2 separate regions of the Homo sapiens genome follow, and region 1 is linked to region 2. The links come from fine-mapping of genetic effects on gene expression. A gene starts in region 2. The other region holds a variant in brackets. All regions are shown on one strand. Distances are between the middles of the regions. Region 1 overlaps DNAJB12 (DnaJ heat shock protein family (Hsp40) member B12). Region 2 holds the start of DNAJB12 (DnaJ heat shock protein family (Hsp40) member B12).

Evidence for each region.
Region 1: its variant is fine-mapped to the expression of DNAJB12 in blood mononuclear cells (TOPMed, PIP 0.92).

Annotation. Positions count from the first base shown.
Region 1 is chr10:72,330,192-72,333,095 of GRCh38, forward strand. It overlaps DNAJB12 (DnaJ heat shock protein family (Hsp40) member B12), which reads right to left. Exons shown (of 9, transcript NM_017626.7): 9 at 2,672-2,904. Among named protein-coding and RNA genes, the nearest start is that of DNAJB12, 23 kb to the right of the region's middle. RefSeq lists a silencer at 1,870-2,119. The variant C/CA (reference allele first, on the strand shown) is at 1,738.
Region 2 is chr10:72,353,146-72,356,049 of GRCh38, forward strand. DNAJB12 (DnaJ heat shock protein family (Hsp40) member B12) reads right to left here and starts at 1,774. Exons shown (of 9, transcript NM_017626.7): 1 at 1,620-1,774. The coding sequence starts at 1,752. RefSeq lists enhancers at 1,231-1,360, 1,751-2,000.

The DNA.
Region 1 (2,904 bases), 23 kb before region 2:
CTCGCCATGTACCAGGCACTGTTCTAAGTGCTTTATATGTGGTAACTTGTTTACTCCTCACAACCATCCTATGAGGTAGGTGTTTGTATCACTCCCATTTTGCAGATGAAGACACTGAGGCAAAGGGCAGTCAAATGACACAGGAAAGCAAAAACTGGCTCCCTCCACCCTTCTAGGGTCTTTGACTGTGCTAGGAATTACATGGACAGATAAAGTGGTTAACAGGAGAAAAATCATATTTAATTACGTACATAGGCATGGGAGCCCCACAAAATATGCAATTTCAAGAAAGATCACATCTTGAGCTACAGAAAAGGAACTGGGGTCCAGGATAACCTTTGTACCTTAAAAAAAAAACCAAAAAAAAAAAAAAAAAAAAAACGGGCTGGGAGCTTCTGGTGGGTGATGGCAATGCAAGTTTGGGAGGGTGAGGGGAGGAACTGCATGGTGAGCAAAAGTTGTCTCGTTATGCAGATAAAAAGTCAGTCTCGGCCAGGCATGGTGGCTCATGCCTGTAATCTCAGCACTTTGGGAGGCTGAGGTGGGCGGATCACGAGGTCAGGAGATCGAGACCATCCTGGCTAACACAGTGAAACCCTGTCTCTACTAAAAATACAAAAAAATTAGCCGGGCGTGGTGGCAGGCACCTGTAGTCCCAGCTACTCGGGAGGCTGAGGCAGGAGAATGGCGTGAACCCGGGAAGCGGAGCTTGCAGTGAGCCGAGATTGCGCCACTGCACTCCAGCCTGGGTGACAGAGCGAGATTCCATCTCAAAAAAAAAAAAAAAGTCAGTCTCTCAGGTCTTAACAGTTGTCTGAGCAGCCCCAAGAATAATAGGCAGTTGTTGTCAATGAGTCAATCCTCCTTGGTAGGTAAGATTTCCAGGAGGGAGTTCAGGACAACTTAGGCAGATGAGGCAACTTCAGAGAAAGCCCTTCCTGCACTTGCTGTTGCTCAAGTGCCCCCAGTTTGAAGTAATCAGCACACCAAAATGGCAGATTTTGGGGTGGCATTTCCTGAACTCCTTCAGGGACACCCAAGGTCACCCAGTCAGTAAATGGCAAAGATCCAGCCTCAGCCCCCGTGGGGGCTGCGAGGCTGCCTCCTGGGGATGACGTTTCCTGGTGCAGCCAGATGGATGCCCGTGTCACTGCCAGGAGACACCTACTGGAATGGGCAGCTGCTCCCTAGGCCAAGCCCATCAGATGAAGTGCCACCATCCTCAGTGTGGCCTTTTCATCCTTTTCCACCCTCCTGGACTCGGGTCTTCTGCCCACTCTACCTGACACCAGTGGGTTTGATTTCCCTGAGTGCAGCAAATTTGGGCTCAGCAACTGTTTGTAGAATGACCACTCTGCTACAAGGACCCCAGAGACAGGCACAGTTTCTTCAAGACCCTGGGCGCCACTTTCCTCCCCCAAGCCTGTTTCCTGCTCTGGGAAATGAGCTGACTTGCTCATGTCACATGGCGTGATGTCTGGTAGGGACGCTGGGTTGCTTCTGAACCATGTCAACAGTCTATTTACCTGATTCTTGGCATGGCTGTGTGCCTGCTCCAGACGCCAGGTGACTTTGTCTGGGCAATGTGGGGTGGGGATGAGGTTACAGGCAGGTCGGGTGTGTGCTCCTTGTCCCTGGAGCAGTTTTTTTTTCTCTGGACCTGGGAGCAGCAAGGGACAAGGCTATAAGCTAGTGGAGCCAGGGAGCTGGGATGCAGTGGCGCGTTCTGCCACCTGA[C/CA]AGTGGGTGGGGGACACTTGTCAAAGCCTTTTTTGCTGCAGTCAGAGCGTGCATCCCACCTCCTCTGGCTCACGGCCAAGCCACACAGGGAGGGCAGGGGGGATGAGGTGGGTGAATGGGGGTGCCTGCAACGCCTCTGCCAACCGCAGCTAACAAGTGGCGGCTTGCACACCAGGGCAGGCAGTGGTGACCCTGGGCAGGGGCAGCCAATGAGCTCCCGGGCCACGGTGGCACCACTGGGCAGCCCGCCTGTCTTTGGCTGGTGCAGCCGCGGGAGGGGCCTGGGTCCGCCAGTCAGGGCTGCCGGGCCCTGTCTCTGGGAGGCCTGGGCAGATCTGCCGCTCCATTCACAGGAGCCCGACCCGACTTGGGCTGCCACATTTTAAACTTTTTCAACCTCCTGGAGAGGAGGGCGGGCTGCGGGGGCGGTTTGGGGGAGGATGGTGGGAAGGACGATGGAAACAAACTCGCAACACTTTTCCCAGGATCTGGCTCCTGAGTGGGATCGAGCTCCAGGCTGGGGCCGGGAATTTCGAATGCTCTGCGGGCACATGGCAGGCCTGAGGGTGTGGGGGGGAGGGATTGGGAGAGGGAAAAGCAGAGGGTGATGGTCGTGGCCCAGATGCCCAGCCAGGACTGGCGCTGGGGACCCCAGGGACCCAGACTGCTCAGGTCCTGCAGCCCCCCAGTCACCTGAGCACCCCTCTGCCTGGATGGAGTTAGTTCTGGAACAGCATGTGTGGCTTAAGTGGCTGTTAGCCAGGGCCAGGGGTCGGGGGAAATTCAGGCTCATCATCTAGAGCTCCTTGTGGCACAGGCTGGACAGTGTCAGCAGCAGCAGGGGCTTGTGCCCCCTCCCCCCCACCCCTTAGGCCTCCCTGCTCAATGCAGACCCACCACGGCCAGTCACATAATAAACATATATTAACAGATGTACAATTTGAGAATTCTAATTCAAGAAATACAGCTTCCAGAGGATCCTTTAGGATCTATGTTCTTATTGCACATGGCTCAGCCCGTCTAGGGACATCTACCAAGACCAGATGGTCGGGGCGTGGGGGCAGAGCACCGGGGCCACAGTGGGTAGGCACTCTGGCCACATCAGTTCTTATAATCTCTCTGGGCTGAAGTGGCTGCTTCATTGCAGGGTTGGACCTTGTTTAAAAA
Region 2 (2,904 bases):
CTCCTTCAAGCTCCTGAACTGGTGCAGGGGCCTGCTGACAGAAAGATCCCCAGAGGCCCTGTGGCCCATCCTTTCTTGGCTGCCTGCTCCTGAGCCCGCAGCAGCATCAGTGTCAGGCAGAATTCTGACAGCTGGAGGATACCACCCCACCACAGAATATGAATTAATTCACAGGGAGGCTCCTCGAGCAGGTTACCTCAGGTGTCCTGGCAAATACAGCCCGAAACCCTCTCCAAGGGGAGGCAAACAGGCCAAAGATCAACCTGCAAGAGTCCGGAGGGAGGAAAGTTCAGCAGTCCAGGCTACCTCTTCCACCAGCGTTCCGCTTTCTCAATCTCATCAGGCGGGCAGGGCCGGTTAGGAGGCTGACTGCTGTTCCTCAATTTCATTTCTTTTCCTTCATAAACATTTACAGAGTCACAGAACATTTTACTTTCTAGCTGTGTCATCCTGGGCATCCCTTACCTCAGAGATTTTCCTCACCCATAGAATAAAGATAATGATCTTTGCTCTGCATCCCTGACTGGCAGGCTCAAGTGAGAAGGCACAGGTGAAGGAGCTTCCTAAACTGCAAAGCCCTATGGGTATTATTGCCAATCACATTATCTGCGCCAACCCTCTAATCTTCCCGAGGAGGAAACCCAAGCTCAGGAAGGTCACGTGGTAGCCGTCAGGATGAGACTGGGCCCTTCGGAGTGCCTGTTATTCCCAGACGGTTTACTGAGTGGTGATCACAAGCACCACCCGGTGTCTCTCTCCCCTCTAGCGTGGATTAAGAAAAACTCCTTGGAAAACTTAGGTTAAAGAAAAAAGAAAGGGTTCCCGGGTGAAGCGAGGTGATGAGTTGTAAAGCCAGCTTCACTCTTCCCTCCCTGGCTCAGGAGGCTCCTGTCCAGGGCAACTCAGCAGCCTCGGCGTCCACATGGCTGACCGCCGCTGGACTCTTGCGGGCGATGGAGGACTGGCGGTGGCTGAGGTCAGCACCTCCCACCAGGCCACCCGCTCCGAATCTCATCATCGGGAGGAGTGAGGGGCCCGGCTTCAGGACAGTCCGAGGCGGCGGACTGGGGTGGGTGCAAAGGCCGGCTTGCATTTTGGGAGAGTGGTCCCTGACCCTCAGCCCGAGAGGTGAGAGGGAGTGAAGATACGGAAGCGCCTTTCCCTGGCGCCCGAAGAACAGAAATGTCTCCCTGTCTAGCGCCCATTCTCTCCCTTAAAGGAGTTATGTTTATTTTCCTGAACTGTAATATTTCCCAGGCCGGCGACTGGCCTGGGCTACCGAACGGCCCCTTGGGAAAAGTAGTTCGAGTTCACTTCCAGGTAAGTTCCCTTCGTCCCGGCTGCCAGCGCGTTTCATTCTCGGAGACCTCAAACCCCAGCGGGCTCCGCCAGCACCCCGAAAGCTGAAGTCCCGGCCGCCCGAGTCTCCAGACGGCTCGCATCCCGCAGAGGAACAAGAGGGAAAAACTACGCCTCCCAGCAGCCACCGCGCGCCTCAGTGCGCAGGCGTAGCCGCGCCTCGCCACCCCTCCCCCTCCCCCAACTGCTCCCGTCGGTCCGTTCCCGTGTTCCCCCCATCAGTTCTAATGTCCCCAGTCTCTCCGGCACCTCACACTCACCGCGAACTCGCGGCGTCGGATACAGCCGCTGTGCCTTCTCCAGGAAGCGGAGCGCCCGGTCGGGCTGGTTGCTCTGGATGGCCTTGAGGGCGATGCTGATACAGCGCTCAGCTTCATCCTTGTTGGATTCCATGGCGGAACCAGAACGCGGAACCAGGGAGGGGGAGGCCGGGCGAGCGAAGGGCTGCGCCACCCGCCGGCGCGTCGCGGGCAGCCGGGCGCGGAGTGATGACATCCACCCTCCGCCCCTCCTTTCCCGAGTTTTGAGCGAGGGTGGAAGTGCTACCGTATGTCTTCTAAGAAAGGGACGGCTGGTGTAGGTGTCAATAATGGTGCACGCCCAGATTCCATGTTCCGGAGGTCTTAGAGTTGAGTATGCGCCAACCCTCTAATCTTCCGGAGGAGGAAACCCAAGCTCAGGAAGGTCACGTGGTAGCCGTCGGGATGAGACTGGGGCCTTCGGAGTGCCTGTTATTCCCAGACGGTTTACTAAGTGGTGATCTATATACGTAATGTAACTACATACGTTTCAGACAAAGGTTATTTATTCACTGAACAGATATTGAGTGCCCACTGTTTGTGAGGCATGGTTTTATGATGGGGATACAGGGGTGAGCAAAACAAAGCTCCTGCTCTCATGGAGCTTACATTCCAGTGTGTGTAGGCTGGGGGAGCTCCAGATAGATTCAGATAGTGATAAAAGCTCTGAAGAAAAATTATGGAAAACACAGGGATAGAGAGTGGGAGGCGCTATTTTAAATAGCGCGATAAAAGAAACCTCTCAGAAGCTGTCATTAACAGGTACCAGAATTCAGGAACGATAACAGGTAGATGTGACTGTCTGGAGGAAGGGTGGTCAGGCCGAAGGAACAGCAAGTGCAAAGGCTCTGAAAAGGGAATTCTCTTGGTGAGTTATAACAGATCAGGAAGGCGAATACATTCTAGGGAGCGTAAAGATTCTACTACAGGCTGGGCGCGGTGGCTCACGCCTGTAATCCCAGCACTTTGAGAGGCCGAGGCGGGCGGATCACTTGAGGTCAGGAGTTCGAGACCAGCCTGACCAACATGGAGAAACCCCGTCTCTACTAAAAATACAAAATTAGCCGGGCATGGTGGCACATGGCCTGTAATCCCACCTACTCGGGAGGCTGAGGCGGGAGAATCGCTTGAACCTGGGAGGTGGAGGTTGCGGTGAGCCAAGATCACACCATTGCACTCCAGCCTGGGCAACAAGAGTGAAACGCCATCTAAAAAAAAAGAAGAAAAAAAAAAGATTCTACTACAG